Homo sapiens: one gene and its partners. The protein of the gene in region 3 purifies or fractionates together with the protein of the main gene of each other region. This does not show direct contact. Each region holds a gene or a part of one and is shown on either strand. Other genes may lie near its edges.

Region 1 (3,500 bases), on a different chromosome or scaffold from region 3:
CCCACCTGGGAGGCCTCACGCTCAGTTCACAGCCTCACTCACACAGGGCTCGCCCGGCACAGGCAAGGACTTGGTGTGGTCCCCTGGGTAGCCTCCAGAGGCTCTGGTCTCTCCTGGCACTGATCAGCTGGGGTACCTAGGGCCCAAGGCTGTGGGAACCTGGGTTTGGGGAGCAGAGGGCACAGCCACGGAACAGTTCAGGGAAAGCCACGCAGGATGGGAAATAAATATGAAAAGACTTGAGTCTTTGGCAGTTCTGCTTCCCTTGGATGGAATAGGGAGGGTCCCGGCAGGTGAGTGCGGAGGGTCAGACAGGCCAGCAGGTGGCAAGTACTGAGCCGTGGTCAGGGGTGGCCTCCTACCATGCTGGCATCAGGCTTGGCTCTGCAGGCTGGCTCATCGCTTCTGATGGGTGAGGGCAACACGGTGTCGGACTGCACAAATCCCCTCCGGTCAATTAGGCTTCCAAAACACAAGGGAGACACATGAGGGCTCTGCCCAACACTGAGGCTCTAGGCCAGGGGTTGGACGGCAGAGTCTATCTCAGCCAAGGAAAGGCCCAGGCTGAGAAAGGCTGAGGAAAGGAGAGCTGCTGCCCATCTGGGGGCCCAAGACTCTTACCTCTGGCAGGCCTCTCTCTGCCCTCTGGCCACCTGGCTTTTGGCCACAGAATTTATTCACTATTAATTCCAACTGGCCCACCTGTCTGGCTGCCAAGAAGCCAGGCTGCAGGTGAGGGAGGAAAGCAAGGATGAATAGGTATTTGATGACTATGAAATTCCTATGTTCCCTTCCCCTCTAGGCAGGCTGGGTGACAGGGATACTGGGTGGGGTAGGTGACATGACTGTGTGGGAATGACTTGTCTTAGCAGTACCCACAGCAATGTAATCCCCGTTCTGGAACTCTGGTGCCCCCTGGTGTCAGGATGAACAGGGAGTGACCCAGCAGGGCTGAGTCCCCAGGGTTCCTACTGCCAGGAGAGGATGGAGTCGCCACCCAGTCCAGGCAGTGGGCAACCGGAAGGGCAGTGTCATTCAAACATGGCTGAAACAGTCATGGTGGCTACCCCCGGGGAGTAGAATTACATGTCATATCCAATGCTCCTCTGTTTTACGTTTTGTACTTAATTTTTTTTTTCTACAATGAGCACGTGATTAAATAACAATTCTCCATGGAATTCCGTCACATGACAAATGCCCTCCAGGGGGTAGTGGACGGAGGGCATCTAGGGTGTAGGGGGAGGTCGGCTGATATCCAGGAACACTTTGATCACTGGCCAGGCATGGCCCTGTTACCCCTCTTCCGCACCCCGCTCACTTACCTGGGAGGTAGGGGGCCACAGAGCACAGCACAGCAGTTGGTGATAATACTTTTATGGCTGTAGGGGTTGACAGAGGCCTCACCGCCCCTCTTGCTGGACCACGAGCCTTTGATCTGCAAGCAGGAAGGAGGCCTAGGTCAAGTACCTCCTTTTGCTTCACTTTTCTAGGAGGCAGGTCTAGAGGCTGGGGACAACTGGACAATTCCGAAACCAATTCTGGTTACAGAAGGCGACATGTCTTTCATGTGGGCCATTCAATGAGAATGTGGGGGACCCCTGGCAGAGATCAGGAGGCCCCAAAGAGGAGATGACAGAGCAGAGCCCAAGAGAAGCATCCAGAGGAAACGTTTCGGATGACTCCTCCCTTCTCCGGCCAGCCACTTCTGAAGGAGGGTAGCGCAGGGGCACAGGGTGAGGGCTGACCTGCCTGTGAGCCCCGGCCCTGCTACTCACTGGCTACGTTACCTGGACAGATCACCACTTCGCTGAGCCTGAGTCCTCATTTGGAAAACAGGGAAAATAATACTAATTCTCAGATGACATTGCTAGGGCATTAGATTAATTCTTGCCAGATTCTCTAGCTCTGTGAAGTCAGCTATGGAAGGCACTGGAGAGTTTAGCAATAAAGAATACCTTGACTTTAACCTAGAGTTTTCTACACTTATTTGGCCACACACTCCTTTCTCTTTAACCTCTGGTAATGTGCTGCAGAACTGGCACCCAAGAAGCTACTGCGGGAGATACTGGCTGATGGCATTTCTGTTCTCACTGATCACCAGGCACACAACGCCCTGTCATGTGTGAAGTTTTGTTTCCCTGAATGAGAGGATGAGGTCTGGGAATGTATTTTCTGTTGGAGGATGGGTTGCTGGTAAGTATCAGATGGTGGGCCCTGAAACAGATGCTCTCATTTACTTTTTAGTGTTTGGAGGATGGGGAGGAGAAGTCAGGTCTGGCCTAGGACTGGGCACATCAAACATGCTTGTTGATGGCAGTCTGCAGGGTGGCAGGCAGGGAAGGTCAATGGAGCCCACTGGCCTGTGCCCTGTCTCCCCCAGGCGTGCATATTGAGAGGGGCAGCCAGGACAGGCCAGTGCCACCTTGAGAATAGTCACGGCTTTGCTGCTGACAGGGGCAGTGTGGAAGAGGGAGCGCATACCTGTGACTGGGCACCAACCTTGGCTCTGTCCCCTCCCAGCTGTGTGACCTCTCAGACATGGGACATGTCTCTCAGTCATCGAATGGGGAAAAAACATCCCTGTCCTTTCTGCCTCAGGCTTGGCAAAAGGACCCAAAGAAATGACGGGAACTGAAAGAATTCTGTAAGCGGTCATGTGCCAGCCAAACATCATGCGTGCTGTGGTGTGAGTACTGCCTCCTGCAGGGCTGTGGAGAAAAGCAACCTGGGACCTTGGGAGCCTGCACTGAGAGAATGAAGCATGTGGAGGTGTCAGAAGCCTGCATCGGACCCACCAGGGCCAAGCTGAGATGACTGGGAGGCATCTGGCTGCTTAAAAGGCATTATCCCAGCAGTCCGTGAGTCAGGACTGTGCTTGGCTGCCCCAGGCTCCCTCAGCCCTGCCTCCTCCTGAGGGCGCTGCCCTAGAATGAGGGGTGGCTCCAGGTTTACTCACGTCTTCATTAGTAGTCAGGTTGGAGGCGACGAGGTACGTGTGAAACCCTGAGAGGCCCAGAATGGACCAGATGGAGAAGAAGCAGATCACCAACTCCAGCACGGTGAGGGCAGTTAAGGACTTCAATGGGTGGAGGGTGGGGAGCCTCCCAGCCACACCTGGCCTGTCTCACCTATCCTTCCATGGAGCTGTTTCCCCAGAGAGCTGAGAAGTTTTGGAACCTTCCTGTGGCCCAGTCCCCACTTCTTAGCAGGATCACCTCCTGGGCCCCTCGGAAGGGTCAGGACCCCACTCAAGAGCCAGACAAGGTCAGGGTGATGGACGGCAGAGAAAACTGAGGGTTCCAATCACAAAGAGCCTTGGGCACGACACGGTCCAGGGAGCTTGGCATCTTAAGGGACATACTCTTTTCCAGGCCCCTGAAGACGAGGAACCCCCGGCCCCACAATGCCCCATTTAGGATCAGCTCTTGCCTGGGTGTGAACAGAAGAGCTGGCATGTTGGATTCTGGAGGACACATGTGAGCTGTACGCTGTTCCCTTCT
Region 2 (4,274 bases), on a different chromosome or scaffold from region 3:
CGGGATACAGGCGAAATTCCACACCCTCCCTCTTCTGAACTTTCACAGGAGTTACCCTCAACTGACACCTCCTTATGCGCTGCACAAGTGATTCGTGTCTTTTGCTCCTTCATACCCTCCCACAAAGCCTACACAGAGCCATGCAACTGTCAGACTTTAATAAATATTATGATTGACTAGTAAGTAGGAGGATGAAAGAGAAGAAACAGAGGCTAGTCATTATACTCCAGCAGTATGTCTATTTTTTAAGAATGGTTTGACATTCAGGATAGGCAAAGCAGCACTGCCTACTTAATTCCCTTAGAAAAGTCACCTCCCTTGGCCTGCAGCGTTTAGCAGGCTGACTCATTCCAGTTGCTCTGCCAGTCTTTTTTTTTTTTTTTTTTTTTTTTGAGACGGAGTCTCACTCTGTTGCCCCGGCTGGGGTGCACTGGCAGGATTTCCGCTCACTGCAACCTCCACCTCCCGGGTTCAAGCAATTCTCCTGCCTCAACCTCCTGAGTAGCTGGGACTACAGGCATGTGCCACCACACCCCGCTAATTTTTGTATTTTTAGTAGACACAGGGTTTCACCATGTTGGCCAGGCTGCTCTCAAACTTCTGACCTCAGGTGATCCGCCCGCCTCGGCCTCCTACAGTGCCGGGATTACAGGCGTGAGCCACCACGCCCGGCCGTGCTCTGCCAGTCTTAAGAGGAAATTCCTGGTCCTGCACACTCAACAAAAGCAGAGAGCAACTTGGCAGGACAGACAGCATGCTGGGAAAAGGAGGCAGTGGCTCCGGGATCAGAAGTGGCGGGATTTTTTGTTTCAGTCTTGCAACCAACTTTCATTGAGCAATGACATAGTGGAGGGCGAATAAGATCAAAGGGGCTGTACTTGGTATGGAAAAACCACAGAAGGGTGGAAGCTAAGCACCTTCGCCTTGAGAGTTGGGTCCATCCATACCTGAAATGGACCCCTGTGGACCCTTGACGAACAGGGCAGTGGCCTAGACATTCTCGTGTGTCTGTCACTCACCAGCTGGGGACTTTGTCAACTCATTCCTCTGTCTAAACCTCAATGTTCTGCTCTGGGAAATGAAATCAAAACTGTTAGTCCTCCCTCCCAGGGTAGTTATAAGAATTAGATAATATGTGAGTGAGTAAGCATTCTAAACACCATATAAATGTGGCTAGAAGTATTATTCACCAGTATGATCTAGTATTTTTGGCCCTCCTCTTCCCCTAAAGCGGAAGTAGGGCCGGGCGCAGTGGCTCACGCCTGTAATCCCAGCACTTTGGGAGGCCGAGGCAGGCGGATCACTTGAGGTCAGAAGTTCGAGACCAGCCTGGCCAATACGGTGAAACTTTGTCTCTACTACTAATAAAAAATTAGCTGGGTATGGTGGCACATGTCTGTAATCCCAGCTACTCAGGAGGCTGAGGCAGGAGAATCGCTGGAACCTGGGAGGCAGAGGTTGCAGTGAGCTGAGATCGTACCACTGCACTCCAGCCTGGGCGACAGAGCCAGACTCCCTCTCAAAAGAAAACCCAAAAAAGCTGAAGTAGGACTACGTCAAAGGCCCACCTGGGCAGGCTGGTCCAATACAGGACAAGGGACCTAAAGATAGATGGTATTTCATTTGGACCTGCAAATGAGTAAGAATGCCAGCTCCGGGTCTATTAAAAACCCCGCTCGGATGTCTCCCACAGGCAGAGCTGAGGTGGGGCCTTGCCTGAGGCTTCCAGGGATGCGCTGGCTTCCCTTCCAACCTCCTTTTCAGACAGCTCTGCCCATTCAGCGGTTCCTAATGCAGAAAGAATGGGCTCCCCGGAGCCTGCCGGCTTCCTTACAGGTCACCGCTAATGCCCTGTGACAGGCCCTTGGCCCACCCTGCCAGGCGGGCCTGGGCATCCTCGCGGCGGCCCATCCCTCGGGGCCGATTCCTCCGCAGCCATTAACAAAGGGGGTCTGGGGACTGCCTCGGAACTAGGGGGCCGCGTGGAGTGGGATGTCTAGGCCAGGGCCCGCCAAGGAGGAGCGGCCGGCTCCCGCCTCCGGGCCTGGGCAGGCAGCGCTAGGGGCCGGTCGGGAAGCACGAAGGAGCCCGGCCGTGGGTCCGGAGGCCGCAGTCGATGGGGACAGTTGCGGGGCCGGGGGTACCCACCTTCTGCTCGACGCCCTGCAAGCCCTGGCCCAGCTCCTCCCTCTGCCGGGAGAAGTCCTGGTGGCTGCGCCGGACCTGCTGGACCTCCTCCAGGACGTGGTGGACGCACCAGCCCGAGAAAGCGGCCGCCGCCACCAGGGCGAGGTAGAAGAGAAAGTTGAGCGCCCTGCCGAGCCTGCGCGAGCAGGACGCCGAGGACGAGGCGGCGGCGGCGGCAGCGGCGGCGGAGGCGGAGGAGGAGGAGGAGGACTTGCCGCCGCCGCCGCCGCCGCCGCGGTGGCCGCCCTTGCCGTGCGCCTGGTTCTGCGGGTGCTGCTGCGGGTGCTGCTGCGGGTGCGGCGCGGGCGGCGGCGGCGGCTGCTGCGGCGCCGGCGGCGGCTTCTTCGCCACGTCATCCGCGCCGCCCGACGGGTGGGCACCCTTCTCCGAGGGGCTCGCGGCGCCGTGGCCGCCCTTGGAGCCCCTTTGTTTGGCCGAGGGCATGGCGGGCGCGGCGGCGGCTCGGGCCGCGGGCTGGGAGGCGAGCGAGCGCGGCGCGCGGCCCGGGAAACTTGCAGGGGCTCCCCCGGGACTGGGCGAGCGGCACGCGGGCGCTGCTGGCGTCGGAGCGGCGAGAGGACGCGCGGCCGGGGAAGGAGGCCGGGCCGAGGAGGCGGGAGGAGGGGGCCTGCCTCCGCCGCCGCGGCGCCGACCCCGCCTCCCGGTAAGGGAGGCCGAGCGAGCCGAGCCGGGAGAGCTTGCCACGCACGCCGGCCCGGCGGCCCCTCCTCCCCGCCGCCACGACCCCGGAGAGGGAGGGCCGGGCGGGGTCTACGGGGGCCGGGAAGCCGGCGCGGGGGTGGCTGGGCGCGGGGCGGGGTCCCGGCGGGGTCTGCGGAGGCCGGGGTGGGCACCGAGGTGGCCGCGAGGGGAGGGGAGAAGAGCGGAGCGGAGGGGAGGGGACGCGGCCGAGGTGGGGCTGGCGGCCCGGCGGGTTCCACGCAGGCTGGGGGCGGAGGGCCAGATCGACCCCAGCCGGGGCGGCCGAGCAGGGTCCACGGGGGTCGGGGATGGGCGGCCAGGCGGGGTCGGAGGGACGAAAGCCGGGGTGAACCTGCGCCGCGGGCCAAGCGCGACCCCCTCCCTTCCCGACCTGTGCGGAGAGGAGAGAAATGAAGGGGGGCGCCCAAGGAGCCCTGGCCCCGGGAGTGGGAGTCAGCGGGTGGGAACAGATCGCCCTTCCTTTCCGCTGGGAATTGGGGGACTCCCCCTGCTTTCACTCTCCCAGCCCGCCATGGGGTTGGGCCTTGTCCTTTGCCTTGGGTTTGAAGGCGGAGACAAAAAAGGCTGTCCAAAATCCAGCCAGCTTGGGAGGCATGGTTGATGCGAGTTAGCAAAGATTCTCGACTGTGGTAAGTCTGTTCAAGGGGACGCATTCACCAAGTGTCCCCGTTAGCCAAGTTAGCCTGCTGTGGCCAGCTCTTTACTTTTTCCCCCCGAAGCCCCTTCAGCTCTGTTTTCTCTTTCGGGGTCATGAAGTTTGTCCACGGCCCCTACTCCTGACAGCCTCTGGGATGGGTGCTGCGGAGGCAGCAGCAGCCACACAGAAAGAGGCAGATCAGCGTTGTCACCCCTACTTTTGTAAAAGGAAATCTGGTATTGCCAGGCTGTGTGGTTAGCGACTCACATATGTTCTCGAAATCTCACAAAAGCCCTGTGAGGTAGAAATTATTTTACCCATTTTATAGGAAGGAAATTGAGACTGAGCGAGCCGGCTTCGGATTGGCTCAAGGTCACATATAGTCATCATTCGAACCTCACTCAGTCTGCTTCTTTCTGAAGTCTGTGCAGCTTAATCACTTCAGAATGGGAAGGAAACGGGGGCCCAGGGAAGTTAAGCAACTTGCCCACTCACTCAGTCTAATTGGTGCCGGGGCAGGGACAGAACTCACTCAATTCCACTGCTTTCCCCAGTTTCTGGTGAGTGATGTGTGCCTGGCACTGTGTGCACCTGGCACTGTGTGTAGTAGGAATGCTGTTTCTTCTGTCTGTAACCTCCTCCCAGTTCTGTAAACAAAGACAAAACCATGCCCTGCCCTTAAAGCCTATAGGGTTCAAATGCCACCTCTTTGATGATGCTTTCCCTA
Region 3 (3,500 bases):
ACCTAACCTCTCCTTACCTCAGTTTTTATCAACTGGAAAATAAGGATAACAAATCAATAACAGTACCTATACGCCATAGGGTTGTAATTTACAAATACTAATTTCTAAGGTAGCACATGATTTATGCCAAATAAGTATTTCACAACTAAAAATAATTATTAAGATCCAGTACTCACTCAAAAGCAGCTTAATACAAGATCATGCTTAAAAACCAGCCATTGGTATTGCCCATTATTAATCTCAAAGATGACTTTATTTTAATATAACTTGACTCATAACAAGTCAGTTGCTGACCAACAAATTCTTCTTTTGATCATGAAGACTGAATAGGTCTAAAACCCAGGGATCATTTTGATGAAGTGAAAATGGAAACTGAGTAATCATTCCCAGAATAAATGGAAGTAAAACAAACATATTATTTACTGAGCACCCATTGTAGCCAGGAGTTTTCCAGGCTGTTGTATTTTAGAAGGCATAGAACATAAAGGTGTCGCTAGGTTTGGCTCCCACATAGCTGAATAAAGTGGCATTTACTGTAGTGAATTCACTACGGCTCTGGTCTTCAGTTTTGAAGGCAGAGAAACTTGGTTTTGTCATCACATGCATTCCCTCAGCATTTATTGACTACCTACTTTGTACCAGATAGCCGTGACAGGCAATGTGGCAACGTGGAGAAAACAAACAATCATTACAATCCTGCCTGCCCTCACAAACCTGGCAATCTGGCAGTGAAGACAAATACTAAAAACCAAATGTACACAAACTAAAGTAAAATAACCAGATTATCAATGGACTAATTTACAAAGAGAAGAACTTCGAGTAGACCAGAATTCTTGTTCCTACTGAAGTGGGAGACCAGCAGGACTTGTTTTCACAACGCTGCTGATCAAAACAGGATGTAGCAAAGAAACCAATCCAAACCAGCAAGGACCAGGAATCATAATACATTTGCATTAGACATTCCTACCAGCACCATGACGGTTTACAAATGCAATGGCAATGACTTGGAAGTTAACCTTACATGGTTTCAGGAACTCCCCACCCCTTTTCCAGGAAGTTCATGAATAACCTGTTTAATTATATTTAGCATTAAGAGTGGGGGCCCAGGCATGGTGGCTTATGCCTGCAATCCCAGCATTTTGGGAGGCCAAGGCAGGAAGATCACTGGAACCCAGAAGCTCAAGACCAGCCTGGGCAACATGACAAAACCCCATCTCTACAAAAAAAAAAGAAAAAAGAAAAAAAAAAATCTGGGTAGCTGGGTGTGGTGGTATGCACCTGTAATCTCAGCTAATTGAGAGGCTGAAGTGGGAGAACTGCTGGAGCCTAGGAGGTCCAGGCTACAATGAGCCAAGATCATGCCACTGCACTCCAGCCTGGGTGATACAGCAAGACCCTGTCTCAAAGAAAAAGAAAAAAGAATGGGTATAAATATAACTAGCCAGCAATCCATTAGTGCTGTTCTGTGCTACCCTGCCTATGAGATAGCCCTGCTCTGCCTTTGGAGTGGTCACTTGGCTGTACACTGTTACGCTAACAAACTTGCTTTCTTTCACTGTTGGTTCACTCTTGAATTCTTTCCTGGGCAGAGCCAAGAACTCCCCCAGGCTGAGCCCCAATTTTGGGGTTTGCCTACATTATGACAAGACCAACCCATGTCTCCCATGTAACCGTGCCTATCTAAGGATGGACACTTACAATTCAAATAGGGGAGCATACTGTAGGAATGGCATTAGGCACCACGCCTTGAAAAACATCTGTTAGGATTGTGACTTCCCCATTCTAAACTTTCCAACCACTCCCTGCCCACATCCTGCCCATTCTCTTATTCTTGCTACTTTTCTCAAAAAGGCTACGGTCCATTTAATTTCTGTTTCCTATATTACAATCTTATTCCCATCTTTCTTCACCAAATACCTTCACCTATCACCGTGACGGGGTTTTCCATGTTCTGAAAGTTCTTCCATCTCACAGCTTTAAAAATCATGCTCTTTATTCCAGAGATGTCAACTGCATTCGATCTTTGTGGAGTATACTAGTTTAAATATTATTTCTGTTATTTTAAAGTTAGTGGTTGTGCAGTGGTAGTAGTTGGGCATGGGAAAGTGGCATTTAGGGCAAATGTACACTGAAACACTAGCTCCTATAGCCTCAAAATGATTATTTCAACCTGAAAAACAACCCAAAGAGGCACAAAAGTATGTGAATCATTCAGTACATTGCACACTGGAATACACAAGATATTATACAAAGGTCAAAATTAAAACAAGAACTTGGCAGGTTAATAGTCCAAGTTCAGTAGTCATTTGCTGCTGGCAATTCTGCAAACTATGAGTAGCACTTGTCGTAATAGAAAAAGTTCATGCATATAAAAAATGTCAACCAACATTTAGGTCATCAGCAAATAAATATTTGAGTCAATACAGGAAAAAAGTCTCATGTTATTTAATGTCTCATGTTTTATTTCATACAAAAATAGCATCCATGGTAAACAAAGATGTGTTTTATCCACATCATGGAAAATGTGGCCTTGTGGCACAGGTGTGCTTAAGGTCCTGTTAATAAACATACAGAGAAACCATTTTTGTAGTTCTACTAATCTTCATTGGATGCAATAAGACAATCTCATATCTGAGGTGATGGGGTCCTCAGTGTTTCAGTTAGTTAGGCAGGGTTTTAGGTGTGTCAGTGATCCCAAGGCTTAGTTGCTATTCTCACAGGTCTACAAGAGGGTCAACAATGAGTATAGCTGAAAATGATGTCCATGATGCAGTCATCCTAACCAAAACAGACGAGACCTATGCATCAATCTGAATACTACTTTATATAATGATCAGCAGGACCCTGTCTCCTTCCAGTGGCTAAAATTAAGGTAATTCCCAGAGTTTCAGAGGAGCCACATAATCCCATGTTACATTCACCCAAAAATGCTATATAAATTGGAGCACAGAGAATTATAGGAACTTTCCATTGAATTTCTGTGGGGAAAGAGGAGGTGATAAAATGTTTTTTTTCAATTTCCATAGGGAAAGATGAAATGATAAAAGGTTTTCAAAAAAGATTTTTTAATGTGATCAAACGTTAACCTGAATATAGTCTATGGAGAATGTATAATTCCATTGGGTAATTATTTTAAAAAACTCTCACTCTACTCTCAGCTCCAAAGGAAATGTCTGTATCTGTCCTTTTCATGGAGCCAGCACAGAGCGTAGAACATAGTAGGTGCTCTTTAACTACCTTCTACACACATAAGTGAATATATTCTTCTTGATCACTACTATGAATTTTTCATCCAAGAAAAACAATGCTTATTTAAAAGCAGAAGGTATTTGAGTCTACAAATCTTGCTCTTCACCTTGAAATATGAATTAACCTCCACTACTACAAATAGAAAATTAATAGAAAATAAGGAAGTTTTCATGAAGATGACTGTCAGAGAATATCATTAATTCCAATCTGTTTTGTTCAGTAAATCTATATAAAACCTTGATATACTACCT
Region 4 (4,056 bases), about 76 Mb from region 3:
AATATGAAGGTGATGGAGATCCATTTCGGCATCGGGAACTGAAGCTGACAGAGGAGATGGCAAATGCAAAGGTCCTGAGGCAGAACTGCTGTGGATGGAACAGAGTTAGGGAAGCAAAGAAGTGGCAGCTAGATGAATCAGAAGGGGAAGAGGCAGATAGTGTGCAGGGCCATGTAGAGCCAATGCAAGAACTTTTACTCTGAGATGAGAAACCAGTGGACGGGTTTTGTTTCTTTTTGAGACAGAGTCTTGCTCTGTTGCCTAGGCTGGAGTGCAGTAGCACGATCTCAGCTCACTGTAGCCTCTGCCTCCTGGCTTCAAGCAATTGTCCAGTCTCAGCCTCCTCAGTAGCTGGGACTACAGGTACACATCGCCACGCCTGGCTAAATTTTGTAATTTTTAGTAGAGTTGGGGTTTCAGCATGTTGGCCAGGCTGGTCTCCAATTCCTGACTTCAACTGATTCTCCAGCCTCAGCCTCCCAAAGTGCTGGGCTTACAGGTGTGAGTCATCGTGCCTGGCATTTTTTTTTTTTTTTTTGAGAGGGAGTCTTGCTCTGTTGCCCAGGCTGGAGTGCAGTGGTGCAATCTCGGCTCACTGCAACCTCTGCCTCCTGGGTTCGAGTGATTCTCCTGCCTCAGCCTCCCAGGTATCTGGGATCACAGGCGCCCGCCACCACTCCCGGGTAACTTTTGTATTTTCAGTAGAGACGGCGTTTCGTCATATTGGCCGGGCTGGTCTTGAACTCCTGACCTTAGGTGATCCACCTGCCTTGACCTCCCAAAGTGCTGGGATTACAGGTGTGAACCACTGGGCCCAGCCTCCCCTCCTCCACTCCGAAGGATTATTTGCTTAATTATTCAGTCGTAAGATTTAGTTACAGGCTTTGAAAGGAGGAGTAATGAAATCTCAGTTGGACTCAGCTAAGCAAAAAAGGGAAAATAAGTATTATCTCCATTTTACAGATGAGGTAATGCCTAATGATGACAATATGTGCGGCCAAGCTAGGATTCAAGTCAAGTTTGACTCCAGCAGCCGTGCTCTTAGTCGTAACCATGAATGGACAGTGGTTCCCTGAACTCTTCCTCCAGCTTGGTCCCCTGTCCCCAATTTTCAATTACTAAATATCCCATCAAACTGGGGCCAGCCCCACGCTCCTGGCCAAACTTCCACCGAGGTGCCGGCAGATGGCGATGGAGCCACCGACGGGCCACTCTGTCTGGCGCACGCATCTCTGTGCTGCCAGGTCGCAGGCGCCGCCGCCGCCGCACTTCCGGGTGCCATTGCAGGTGAGCCAGGGTCTCCCGAGAACCTCACCCCCCGGTATTCCCCTCACCCTGAAGTAAGGGAGTCTCCCTCTTCCCCTCAGCTCCTAACCAAGGTGCTCAGTACCGCGGCTAGGGTGCCCAGCGGGAGGCTGGGTAGTTACCGGAGGAGGCAGAGCCGGTCGCACGCCTGGGTCCCAGCGGAGGCCCAGTCGACTCTCGACCCGGGCCCCAGCCTCCTTGCGTGGCGAAGGTCGTGCCTCAGGTCTCCTGGCGAACCTGGCCGCCCGGAAGCGGAGAGTGACTCCTCCCCTTCGTCCCCTCGGTGCCCGCCAGGCGGCGCCGTCGGCTGGGCCCGGATTCCCCTGCGGCTTCGATCCCTTTCCACTGGGTATTGAGATTGGCGAGGGGAGAGGCGCAGAAACGGCGTGTAAGAGAGCCTGACTACCAATTGGAATAAGTTTCCCTCCTGACTGTTCACATGTACAGGCAGCATTAGCATTTCCTGCCTGTACATGTGAACGTTCCTATGCTCTACCCCTCGAAGATCCTGATTCAGTAGATCTGGGGTGGGACCTCATGAAACGGCGTCTCCCTCTGTTGTCCAGACTCTAGTGCAGTGGTTCAATCTCGGCTCACTGCAACCTCCGCCTCCCCGATTCAAGCGATTCTCCTGCGTCAGCCTCCCCAGTAGCTGAGACTACAGGTGCCCGCCACCCATTTTTGTATTTTTAGTAGGGACGGGGTTTCGCCATTTTGGCCAGGCTGGTCTCGAACTCCTCACCTCAGGTGATCCGCCCGCCTCGGCCTCCCAAAGTGCTGGGATTACAGGCGTGAGCCACCATGCCCAGCCTGGAAATAGGAGGAGAGTAATATTGCGAGGGGTTGGCTGTGAAATGGTTTATCTCCAGGAAGGTTTCCGGGAGGAAGTGATTCTAGCTGGGCTTGTATTCAGGGACCAGAATATCCACTGGTTCTTTGCCCCACAGTAATGAATTTACTTCCCCACCCCTATCAGGATGCAGAAAGCCTCAGTGTTGCTCTTCCTGGCCTGGGTCTGCTTCCTCTTCTACGCTGGCATTGCCCTCTTCACCAGTGGCTTCCTGCTCACCCGTTTGGAGCTCACCAACCATAGCAGCTGCCAAGAGCCCCCAGGCCCTGGGTCCCTGCCATGGGGGAGCCAAGGGAAACCTGGGGCCTGCTGGATGGCTTCCCGATTTTCGCGGGTTGTGTTGGTGCTGATAGATGCTCTGCGATTTGACTTCGCCCAGCCCCAGCATTCACACGTGCCTAGAGAGCCTCCTGTCTCCCTACCCTTCCTGGGCAAACTAAGCTCCTTGCAGAGGATCCTGGAGATTCAGCCCCACCATGCCCGGCTCTACCGATCTCAGGTTGACCCTCCTACCACCACCATGCAGCGCCTCAAGGCCCTCACCACTGGCTCACTGCCTACCTTTATTGATGCTGGTAGTAACTTCGCCAGCCACGCCATAGTGGAAGACAATCTCATTAAGCAGCTCACCAGTGCAGGTCAGTGTGGGCCACTTTGAAGGCCAGAAGTACCTTGGCAAATTTCTTCAAAATTTGAAGTCAGGGAGTCAGACCTTTGGGTGCCCAGATGCACACTTGATTATGGTGTAGGGGGACAGAGGAGAAGAAAGAGGCCAGGGCCCTGCTGGTAGGGAGCTCAGTTTGGGGGACAGAGGAGAAGAAAGAGGCCAGGGCCCTGCTGGTAGGGAGCTCAGTTTGGGAGACAGAGGAGAAGGGATCTGGGCTTTGTTCCTATGAAGCTTCTAATCTGAATGGAGTGTAAGTTTTATTCTTGGAGACCTCTCAGTAAAAGGGAGAAGGGAAGAAGAGAAGATGTGGATCTTGGCTTGCAAGTGTGGAGAAGAAAGCAGAGAAATACAGGCCCTGTTCATTCACTGACTGGGAAGAAGCAGGATACACCCAGGAAAAACAACTCAGTAGAGATACCCAGAGACAGAACTAGGAGAGCATTTTGTAGGAAGGATAAGTGTGAGGTCTGGGTGGAGTACGGTTATCAGGGAAAGCTTCCTGGTGGAAAATGTTAGGCCCTGAAGGATAAGGATTGCTGTATGGAATTGCTGTACTTTAGGTTGCATGGTTGGGACTTCTGATGGGTCTTTAAAGGGCCTCTTTTCCTCTTTTCTCCTAACCCTGACGTTTGCTCAGGCTCTGACTTCTCTTTCATGTCCCTGCAGGAAGGCGTGTAGTCTTCATGGGAGATGATACCTGGAAAGACCTTTTCCCTGGTGCTTTCTCCAAAGCTTTCTTCTTCCCATCCTTCAATGTCAGAGACCTAGACACAGTGGACAATGGCATCCTGGAACACCTCTACCCCACCAGTGAGCATGGGGCCAGAGCACTTAGTTCTAAGACTGGGAGCTGGGGAGAACTGCTTTAGTCCACAAATTCTGAGCCACCTATGGGTGTAACAGCCTGGGCTTGTATCCCTGGACATAGAGGAGTGTCAAAGCCTGGCTGGGGTTGAGGAGTGGGTCTTAGTCTTCTGTGCTCAGTGTTCTCCCCTTCACAGTGGACAGTGGTGAATGGGACGTGCTGATTGCTCACTTCCTGGGTGTGGACCACTGTGGCCACAAGCATGGCCCTCACCACCCTGAAATGGCCAAGAAACTTAGCCAGATGGACCAGGTGATCCAGTGAGTGTGGGGTATTGGCTGGGGGAGTGGGTTTGTGTCTGAGAATCTCGAAGAAGCTCTTATCTTAGAGCTTCTTTCCTGGCTGAATTCTGTCTTCTCTAGGCCTTCT
Region 5 (3,500 bases), on a different chromosome or scaffold from region 3:
GGTTTGGCACCAGACGGCCTGGGCTCGGATTCCACTGAGCTACTTTTTACTTGTGTAAACCTCAGCAAGTTACTCAAACCTTCTAAGCCTTAATTTCCTCGTCTATAAACTGGCGATGACATTGTAAGTAGCTGCTTCATAGAGCTGCTGTCAGGATTCATTGGGACGTTGGTGAAAAGTGCTCAGTACATTCACTTTCAATACTAGCTGATAAAAGAATCCTAACAATAGAAACATTAACTTAAACACTCAGGGTCTCACCTTCAAATACTAGCTTTTCATGTCCTTACTTGGCTGATAAGCCACGCTGTCTATAAACTAAATAACTGAAGACAAGGTAACAATTAAATTAATGAAATAATAAAACTATAAAATTAATAACTAGAAAATATCCAGAATACCATGATAAGATTGTCTAAGAATTTTTTTTTAAATCATTTGAAGGGCTACCCCTTTTTCAGAGTAAGACTCACACCTACCATATCCCTGACCTGCAACTGTCCAGCCCCTCCAGAGCTGGGGCATCCTGATTGAGTAGGGGAGCCATTATATTTTCAGCTAATACCCATTTTATGAGGAACATTCTGTAAAACCAAAATTGATCTTCCCTTAGTGAACACCCACTAGTCTTGTTTCACCCAGTGGCATTCCTCAGACAGAGCAACTTTAAATAAGTGCAGATGGCTGTCTTGTTCTCCACTGAACAGGCTCTCCTAGGGGTGAAAGCTCCCAGGTCCTCAACCCTTCCTCACAGTACGTGGTTTCTAGCCCCTATCATTCTGATGTTGCTTTTCTGAGCATGCTGGTCTGGGAATGTCTCTTTTGAAAGGGGCTACTCAAAGTAAACATTATCTTCCAGAGGTGGTCTTGGCATACTGAACAGAGTCAGATGTTACTTCCCTTTTTCTTAACACAGTCCACAGTCAAGGAACACATTCCCTTCCCTGGAAGACATATTTCACTGCTTCCAGTCAACTAAAATCCCCATGCTTCATGCACACTTCCTTCCAGCCATGCCTTCCCATCAACATTTATCTGTTTTGTCTCATCCATTTATGAGCAGGATTTTACATGTATTCCTATCTACTTCATTTGATTGACATCTTGATACTATCCTGGCCTCTCTAGATCATTGTGGATTATGAGTCTATCAGCCACTGGCTGGCATATACAGTTTCAAGTCACACAAGCATTGCTTTAGCAGGTCATCCATGCTAGTCACTGACAAAGCTATTGAACAGAGTCCTGCCATCTGCTATCCGGATCTGCCTTCAGCCTCACAGGGGCTTATTAACTACCACTCTTTACCCTTGATTATTAGACCAGTGTGGGGGACATACCCCAAGGTGGCCCCTAGTGACTCAGGCCCTTGTGTAATCCCTTCCCCTTGAATGTTTGCTTACAGCCCATCTTCTGATGCCCTGAAATTCTCTTTATGTTAAACTCCCTAAGGGTGAGGACCGTTGGTTTCATTTGTATACCCCAGACTGCTGAGCACAGCATCTTCCACCAGTACTTTCAACTTAAAACCTGTGAAAATAGTTTGTGACTGGAAAATACTGTTAATATATGATGCTACAATTCTTCAACTGTGGACTTAGTCTGAGTCAAGGACTTTTAATTTATATGGATGATCTGGATAACAGTAAAATTCAGATTATACGTATGTATTCATTCATTTATTTGTTTATTTAGGAGATGGGATATTGCTATGTTGCCCAGGCTGGTCTCAAACTCCTGGTCTCAAGCGATCCTCCCACCTCAGCCTCCGAAAGTGTTAAGATTACAGGCATGAGCCAGCACACCTACCAAAACTCAGATTTTATAAGCAAGACACATCGTTTCCTTCCTCTGTGACCTTACTGTGACCTCTGTGTTACTGTGATGGCCAACCATTCATCTACTCATGACATGTAACTCCCTTAATGGTAGCTTTGTGACCCAAAAGACTTGATCTTGCTTTCAGAGGAGCTTGATTTATATTGCATTGAAATAGCTCAAGGACCAAGAAAATTCAAATTAACCAACCTTTCACTCAACAAATAATTAATGGAGTCCCTTTAAGTACTGTCCACAGATTCTTAGTTACACTTCTTTTCAAGATGTGGAACTTAATTCCACTTGCATTGAGTGTGGGCTGGACTTAGTGACTTATTTCTAAGAAACAGAATGAAGTGGATGTGATGGTGTGTGGCTTCTGAGGCTAGTATGTCATGGTATCTTCCTTCTTGTTCTCTCTCTTGAATTCCTTGTTCTGGCAGCAGCCAGCTGCCACATTGTGAGGACACTCAAGCAATTTCACACAGCAAGGAACTGAGGCCTCCTGCCAAGAGCTATGTGAACAGGCCACTTAAGTAGCAGACCCTCCAGCCACAGTCAAGCCTTCAGATGACTGCAGCTCTGGCTGAGATCTTGACACAACCTCATGAAAAACAGTGAGTCAGGACCATCTAGCTAAGCTGCTCTTGAATTCCTGGTCCACAAAAACTATGAGATGATGAATATTTATTGTTTTAAATTGCCAAGTTTTAGAGTAACTTGTTATGCAGCAATAAACAACTAATACAAATACAAATTCAGAATTTTGACTTACCTTGTAGTATTGTAAAATTCTTGATGAGCTGACCATGCTTGGAGTCTACTAGCTTCATTTCTTCCATAATCACTGATAAGTTGGCTACTTCAGTGTCTAACCTCGACCTCATCAAATCTTGTTGCATCCTGAGAGAAACAGAATCCAAACGGATGTTGGCCAGGGTATTATTCAAGGAGGTCAGATCATCTGTGTGTTTGGTAAGGGTATCTGTGCAAGTGGTCCTGACTTCATTTAGATTGCTGGTCAGCGTCCGCAGGTGGTGGGCTGTGTAACTGATATTGCTAATGATGTTCACAATATCCGTCTCAAAGAGCTGGAAGCGTTCCTCCAGTTGGTTGAACTTGATGGCTGTTCTATTCTCTGCATCTTTGTGTAAGTCCTGCAGGTCTTTCAGGTTCTGCTCGTTGGCTTGAGAGATAGTGGTGATGTTCTCCATCTGACCTGTGAATGAGTTGAGCTGGCTGTTCATATCCTCCAGGGTGTCGTTGTTGGCTTTGGCCAACGCAGAGTTGTTGGCAGCCAGCGTCTGCAAGCTCTGCACTTTCTCCTTCAGCCAATCCGTGTCCTTCTTGGCTTGAAGAAAAACCTGCTGCAGATTTTGAAAGTCGTTCTTGATTCGCTGGATAGCCTGGCTTGTGTCATCCACAGACCGCTGCAGATTCGTGATGAGGTTCCTCTGCTGCACCTGGGTCAGGTTCAGGTTGTTGAGGTTCATGATGACCACATTATGAGAATACATTTGGTTCTGCAGATTGCCCTGGAGCACGCTGGTATCTTGCTGCAGATTCGTGACATAGCCATTATACGCCTGGAGGGTTTTGTTTACAGTGGTGATGAGGAAAGAGTTATTCTCCAAAGTTTCTTTCAATTGACTCTGCCTGTCCACCAGAGCATCCCCGCTCGC
Region 6 (3,137 bases), on a different chromosome or scaffold from region 3:
TTCGGTCATGTGTTTTTCATCTTTGTATCCCTAACACATAACAGTACTTGGCATTTGTTAGTAATCAATAAGTGTACCACATGACTGACTAGTCTTCTTTTTACTTAACATATCAAAAAGTCTAAACCAATGCTATGTAAAGTAACTAGCCTATGAACTGTTAATAGTTTATAATGCAATAGAATTCAAGTCAGAATGTTAAAAGAAAAAGAAATGCTTCCTTTTTAAGAAAGTCTTGCTGTGAAAAAGTATCTAGCAGAACTAATGCTTTGTGATGTAGCTGATTGACATTCTTGCCCCATTTTGGTTCAAATACTTGAAAGTTGGATGAAGACATTTTCATAAGGAAAAATAAAATGCTGAGGGGAAGGATAGTTAAAATTAACTTTATGGTCTTCATTCATCTTTATAAGCACAAATATTCAGGCTGTCAAACATTTAAACTAAAGACACCTATTTTCACTGGTAAAAAAATAAATACAGACACAGGGCACTTAAAATGTTTTTAAAAAGCCAAGACACATAAAAAAAAACTAATAAATTTTTAATTAGAATTTTTTCCTTTTTTTAACAGGACAAGTAACAGATTACATCAAACTTCAGAACTTCTCAAATACCTAGTTATTATACACATTCCCATCTGTCTTGCAGGGAGGGATCTTGGTCGGCTTAACAGTTTCAGGTAAAATAAGCTGCATAATAGTATATATTACAATAATAAATGTACAATGTTTACATGAAATATGTTTTAGAAGCAAGAAAAAGATGCATCTGCATCAAAGGCGACCTTTTAAAATGCCACAACTATTTTTTACATTCACTCTTGCAACAGGTTACAAGATGGGGGTCACTAAGCTCAGATAAATCACTATGATGCACATAAAATACAGGAAGACTGGTTACTTTATATATTATATATATTTATATTTTCACACGTTAGCATCTGAGACATAAACTGAGAATTTAAAATTTATTCTCTTCAGATAACAAATCATTTTTTATTCTTCATAAACAAGGTGCCCACAAAAGCACACAGGTAAGGCACAATAGGGCTTTCTGTTACAGAATAGTGTGCATCATGTTTACTTAACCAGAAAACGTGCATTATCTGTGCAAGTTCATGCTGCAAACCCAACGCATACAATAAAACAAAAAGGAAACTGAGCTTTAAATACAACCAAAATTTGTACAATTCCAGCTGTTTCACATATTCATTTGGACTGACAATTATATATCAACAGGTTATTTTTAAAAAGCCAATTGTAGATTACAAGTAAAATTTACTCAGCAACTATTTTTATCTGAAATCATAAACAGTAATAAAGTAAGTTTACTGAAACAAATTAAATACTGAGGCACAAAGCAACAGTCAATCGTGCATTTACTATATTGCAAACTTTCATGACCCAAAATTGCAAGTATAATTTGTCAAATACACATTTTGCTGCAACAATGTGCCCTGCTTTAAACTTGACATATAACAGAGGCACTAACATATCATTAAATTATAAATAGATTGGGAAAATGACTTAACCCCAATGGTACTATGTCATGGCCCTAGTATTTATAATAAATACAGCTTTTCACAAAATATTTTTCCAATATCTGCCAATTTCTTCTTTATTGCTCACATAAATTTGACTCTATTACAACTGGTATCAGAACTTTCACACAAAATCATACTCAGACATTTTTATATAAAACCTATAAAAGATATTTTAAACTTGTATCTAATACTTCCAGGTGTTTGGCTGTTTGATCTATGCAAAAGTACAGCCATATGTATATATCTCTGTGTGTGTATATATATACATCTATATATACACACACATACACACATACATATATACACACACATTAGATTATGAATAAAATGGAAAGCTTATTTTACTGCTTTAATGCAGACATCCTCATAAAACAAGACTACTTTCACCACCACCAGCATTTATACATATATACAAAGCCAGTTTAAGTACATATACATCCACTTACACATATTTGTAACCACTAAGCCCAAATTAATTTTCCCATATTCCAGCCGTAGCAAATGAATCGCTTATAAGCAACAGAAACCTAAGGTTAAATTGGGAAATCAACAGTTTTACCACATTAGCCTGTAGGAACTATGCAGGTGACTGTATACAAAAATTCACAACATTAGTTCACAAGAAATTATGGGACTACAAGAAGCCTTTTCATCATGCTTTTGTGTGGTTATCCAAACACTTCTTGGGGCAAAAATACAACCACCACATCTGAAAATGCTTAATAAAGTCAGTGTTCCTCATGCAAAACTTTAAATGTATTGGCTTAACTGAGCTCCAAAAACTGAATGAAATAATTATCCTACCTACTCAGCATTGCTGCCTCACTGCTAAATCCCTTTGGAACCTTAAGACTTCTGGAACGTTCAGAGATGTATTCATCAATAAAAATATTACATACAAAAAGCATTTAAAAAGGAAGACAAAAAGCCAAACAGGAATTTTCCTATTGTAAATAACAGTCTTAGAAATGGAAGAAAATCTTTTCAGGAACTTCCTTGAGAATTGGTTAGGCCAGTCCGAAGACGAAGATGAGACATGGAGTTCATATGTTTATTTGATGGCTTCAATGGAGTGTTGGAAGTGAGAGCCTGGGGAAAGCGATGGTGGTATCTATCTAGTCGTAAATATTTTACTGTAACCAATTTCCCTGTTGTAAGATAAAAATAATATTTTAGATCAGTAAAACTGTTTAATATTTGCAGAAAATTAACTGTGGTAAAAGACATATGAGCACAAAACATAAATAAAGTCATCTAAAATTATTACTCAAAAAAATGCTAACCTAAATTCTTTTATTTGAAATCTGGTATAGTTTAAAATTAAACTATAACTATCTTTTCAAAATGTTTGTAGTACTCAAATTTCTTACCATCAAACCAAGAGCCATGCAATGCTTTAAAAGCCTTTCCAGCATATTCTGGAGACAGACATTTAACATATACACAACCCTGTGATATTAAAAAAGAAAGAAAATAGTCTTAGTTTAATAGCAACAAATCCAAAACATGAAATTCAATACCAAAAGTTACTTTACCTCACGTGAATTTTTGTCTACTGCAATGTGAACAATGCCATCATTATCACTGCATT
Region 7 (3,500 bases), on a different chromosome or scaffold from region 3:
TCAACTCCAATCTTGCCCCTGCTCCACACTTATTTCACCTAAGGTCTTCCTGAACTCAGTAAATCTTCAATTCCATCCTGCCATTTTATCAGATCAAAACAATTGGCATCATCCTTAATTCCTCTTCTCTTTCCTATCATACATCTGATCCATCAGCAAATTCCACTGGTTCCACCTTCAAAATATATATAGAATCTGATCTCAATTCAGCATCTCTTCCCTTGGGTATACATATAGCTCCCTCACCTCCTTGAAGTCTCTGCTTAAATGTCATTAAGTGAAGCCCTCCTTGATCACCCTATGTACAACTGCAAGCTCTAGCTCCTGCATTACCTGCTCCACTGCACTTTCCACTGACATATTAAAATATTTTACCCACTTAAATTTTGTCTTTGTCCCCTCCCTCCACAAATGTAAGCTCAAAATCTTCTGTTTACTTGCCATATCCCCAGGGCCTAGAACAATGCCTCAAAGAATGCCTATAGAAGACACTCCTCAATAAAAATAAAATTTTTTGGATAGAAAAATATTTTCAGACAGTTACAGCAAGAATGCGTTTCCCATAAAAAATCTAATTTGCAAAAAATATTTTGGAAGTATGGAAATATATTCGGAAGTATGGAATACATTTGGATTTGGAAGTATGGAATACATTTGGACTTGGAAGTATGGAATATATTTGGAAGTATGGAATATATTTGGAAGTATGGAAAATGAAACACATTTTCCCAACATTTACAATGCTACAAAATTTCAAATACCTTTCTTGTTTCAGAATTATTTCTTTTATCAACTATTTCAGAACTACTACATTGGGAACATGCAATACTGTTTTAATTTAATCAGCATTTTAATTTGCTCTTCCATACAGGAAGTTAATACTTACTTGACGATGCCATATCCCAGACTGACTATGATGACCAGGGTTCGAGCCAGTGAGCGTTTCACTGCTGAAAGCAGCTCTGCAAGGATCAAAGCACCCTGGACTATGAAAAAGAAGGGAAGAAATGGCACCATAATCTAGGTTTGGCAACAGGCCAGATGCCAATACTAGACTGCTGCTTTCTACACTCTTCAGAATAAGCATTGATATTAGTCCTGCTAAAATAGAATACCTCTTCCACAGTTTTTACAGGATACAAGCTGATGCCACTCACAATCTTACTCATGTCTATGTATGGCAATCTGGGTGCGCTCAACTCAGCTCCCTCCCCGACCTGGCCCCAAATTCACTAAAACTTTAACAGAATACCTCACCCTATATGGACAGTTTGTAGCATCGAGACAATTTCCCCCATTTTTAAAAACTGTGAAATACAGCTACACATAGAAAAGCACAAAACACACTCGTGTACACGCTTGTTGGCATGTACAGCTTAACTTTTTTCAGATCTACTATTTTCAAGACCTTTCAAAGACCAGGGAAAATCTTATCAGTTTATCTCACAATAATAATTATGACTAAATTAAATGGTCTGACAAGAAAAAACTGAAGCAATCACAAAAAACTACAGTATAAAACAACTTCTGTCATTACCAGTTCACCTTACTAAACCATAAGCACTCTCCTATTTTCTTGATATGACTATATTTTATCAGTTAGATGCACTTTCCCACCACATTTTGAGGTTTTTTAAATCAAGGTGTGTCTTACAATCAGTGACATTTTACAATTAAATTGACAGCTTTACTTTTTTTCTTAGATGTATAATGGTGCCTTAGAAATCAACAGAAATTGAGATTTGATGTTAATAATCATTCCCAAAATGGTCACTACTGTTGTGACTTTTGTGAGCATATTTCAGTAAAATTAGTCTTACATCACTGAACTCATAAGATTAAAAACAAAAGTCAGAGTCATAGTGATTCTGCTTAAGATATTGTAATAATTAAGTAATTGAAAAGTTAAGCCTATGTAGTGACTGCTGACCTTAGGAATATTTTCATACATCTCACCTTCCAACCACTCGAACTGGCAAAGATTTTCTGGTTACTTACCAGATTCTCCTTTGTATCGGATATTCTGAAATTCCGCATAGAAGACAGCTTTCTCAAGCATTCCCAGGAAGATGACAGCACCAATCCAAAACTGAATTCTCAGGAGATCTCTCCAGTAGCAGGCAGACCATGCCAGCCACAGAACACCAAACAGGACATATACAATACACATCACCATGAAAAACTGTTATCAAATTGGGTAAAAGATAAAAAGGAGAATTAGGGCCAAGAGCCAAGTCTGTAGATTTAGAATCAATATATACTTTTTTTTTTTTTTTAAGAGATGGGGATTTGCTATGTTGCCTAGGATGGTCTTGAACTTCTGGACTCAAGCAATCCTCCCATCTCTGCCTCCCAAAGTGTTGGGATTACAGGCATAAGCCACAGCGCCTGTCCTGAATCAATATACAGTCTTAACAAGTTACAAAAATATATTCTACCTTCTAGTTAAGAAATAATTCTTCCTTTGGAGCTTAACATTAACTAATATGAAAGCATTATCTTGTCTTGAGCAGAGAAGACTACATATGAACTTGTCCTCAAGAGCGAATGCTCTCATATGTATATATATATATGTGTGTGTGTGTGTGTGTGTGTGTGTGTGTATGTATGTATCACATATGTATACCATATAAAAGGTGCTCTCTATTATACACACAGACACATATATGGTATATATAGAGAGCACTCAGCCTGCTCTCCTATAGTAAAAGAGCTTTTTCTGGTCAGGCGTGGTAATTCACACCTGCAATAGTGCTTTGGGAAGCCGAGGCAGGAGGACTGCTTGAGGTCATGAGTTCAAGGCCAGTCTAGGCAACATAGCAAGACTCTGTCCCTACAAAAAATAAAAATTAGGCCAGGCATGGTGGCTCATGCCTGTAATACCAGCAATTTGGGAGGCAGAGATGGGCAGATTACTTGAGGTCAGGAGTTCAAGACCAGCCTGGCCAAAACATGGTGAAACCCCGTCTCTACTAAAAATACAAAAATTAGCCAGGCATGGTGGTGCGCACCTGTAGTCCCAGCTACTCAGGAGGCTGAGGCAGGAGAATCGCTTGAACCCAGGAGCTGGAGGTTGCATTGAGCCAAGATCGTGCCATTCCACTCCAGTCTGGGTGACAGAGTGAGACTACGTTTCAAGATAAAAAATAATAAAATAAAATAAAAATTAGCCAGGCATAGTGGCACACGCCTGTTGTCCTAGCTGCTTGGGAGGCTGAGGTGGAGGGTAGCTTCAGCCTGGAGTTTAAGGCTGCAGTGAGCCATTATCCATTATCATGCCACTGCACTCCAGCCTGGGAGACAGAGTGAGACTCTCTTTTTTTTTTTTTTTTTTTAAAGAAGGAGCTATTTCAGCTCACGATCTAAAATTATATAGATGAAGACAACACTGAAGAAGAAAAATGGCATGATGATTAGGATACATCTAGAGGCAAGGAAACACAACAAAACGGGAAAACTATTAAAGGGAAAGGAAGAAGAGAATAATCATGAACAAAGAA

The links.
Region 1: the proteins of LPAR1 (region 3) and ZDHHC18 purify together in Homo sapiens (affinity purification with mass spectrometry; 3 studies listed by BioGRID and IntAct, with this or other methods). This does not show direct contact.
Region 2: the proteins of LPAR1 (region 3) and CKAP4 purify together in Homo sapiens (affinity purification with mass spectrometry; 3 studies listed by BioGRID and IntAct, with this or other methods). This does not show direct contact.
Region 4: the proteins of LPAR1 (region 3) and PIGO purify together in Homo sapiens (affinity purification with mass spectrometry; 3 studies listed by BioGRID and IntAct, with this or other methods). This does not show direct contact.
Region 5: the proteins of LPAR1 (region 3) and COLEC12 purify together in Homo sapiens (affinity purification with mass spectrometry; 3 studies listed by BioGRID and IntAct, with this or other methods). This does not show direct contact.
Region 6: the proteins of LPAR1 (region 3) and LEMD3 purify together in Homo sapiens (affinity purification with mass spectrometry; 4 studies listed by BioGRID and IntAct, with this or other methods). This does not show direct contact.
Region 7: the proteins of LPAR1 (region 3) and TMEM87A purify together in Homo sapiens (affinity purification with mass spectrometry; 4 studies listed by BioGRID and IntAct, with this or other methods). This does not show direct contact.

Annotation. Positions count from the first base shown.
Region 1 is NC_000001.11:26,850,688-26,854,187, reverse strand, and holds part of ZDHHC18 (palmitoyltransferase ZDHHC18), read right to left. Parts: intron 3,060-3,500; coding exon 2,957-3,059; intron 1,436-2,956; coding exon 1,323-1,435; intron 463-1,322; coding exon 345-462; 3' UTR 1-344. UniProt on the Homo sapiens protein: Palmitoyltransferase that catalyzes the addition of palmitate onto various protein substrates, such as CGAS, HRAS and LCK. Acts as a negative regulator of the cGAS-STING pathway be mediating palmitoylation and inactivation of CGAS.
Region 2 is NC_000012.12:106,245,221-106,249,494, forward strand, and holds the start of CKAP4 (cytoskeleton-associated protein 4), read right to left. Parts: upstream 2,801-4,274; 5' UTR 2,632-2,800; coding exon 2,149-2,631; intron 1-2,148. UniProt on the Homo sapiens protein: Mediates the anchoring of the endoplasmic reticulum to microtubules. High-affinity epithelial cell surface receptor for the FZD8-related low molecular weight sialoglycopeptide APF/antiproliferative factor.
Region 3 is NC_000009.12:110,937,471-110,940,970, forward strand, and holds part of LPAR1 (lysophosphatidic acid receptor 1), read right to left. Parts: exon of another isoform or gene 2,442-3,500; intron 1-2,441.
Region 4 is NC_000009.12:35,093,792-35,097,847, reverse strand, and holds the start of PIGO (GPI ethanolamine phosphate transferase 3, catalytic subunit), read left to right. Parts: upstream 1-1,256; 5' UTR 1,257-1,693; intron 1,694-1,871; exon of another isoform or gene 1,872-1,969; intron 1,970-2,281; 5' UTR 2,282-2,282; coding exon 2,283-2,793; intron 2,794-3,488; coding exon 3,489-3,632; intron 3,633-3,823; coding exon 3,824-3,947; intron 3,948-4,056.
Region 5 is NC_000018.10:343,702-347,201, forward strand, and holds part of COLEC12 (collectin-12), read right to left. Parts: coding exon 2,594-3,500; intron 1-2,593. UniProt on the Homo sapiens protein: Scavenger receptor that displays several functions associated with host defense. Promotes binding and phagocytosis of Gram-positive, Gram-negative bacteria and yeast.
Region 6 is NC_000012.12:65,245,719-65,248,855, reverse strand, and holds the end of LEMD3 (inner nuclear membrane protein Man1), read right to left. Parts: coding exon 3,082-3,137; intron 2,996-3,081; coding exon 2,917-2,995; intron 2,695-2,916; coding exon 2,531-2,694; 3' UTR 501-2,530; downstream 1-500.
Region 7 is NC_000015.10:42,235,434-42,238,933, forward strand, and holds part of TMEM87A (transmembrane protein 87A isoform 1 precursor), read right to left. Parts: intron 2,183-3,500; coding exon 1,999-2,182; intron 987-1,998; coding exon 887-986; intron 1-886. UniProt on the Homo sapiens protein: Potential monoatomic ion channel gated by mechanical force, implicated in normal touch sensitivity through the generation of mechanically activated currents.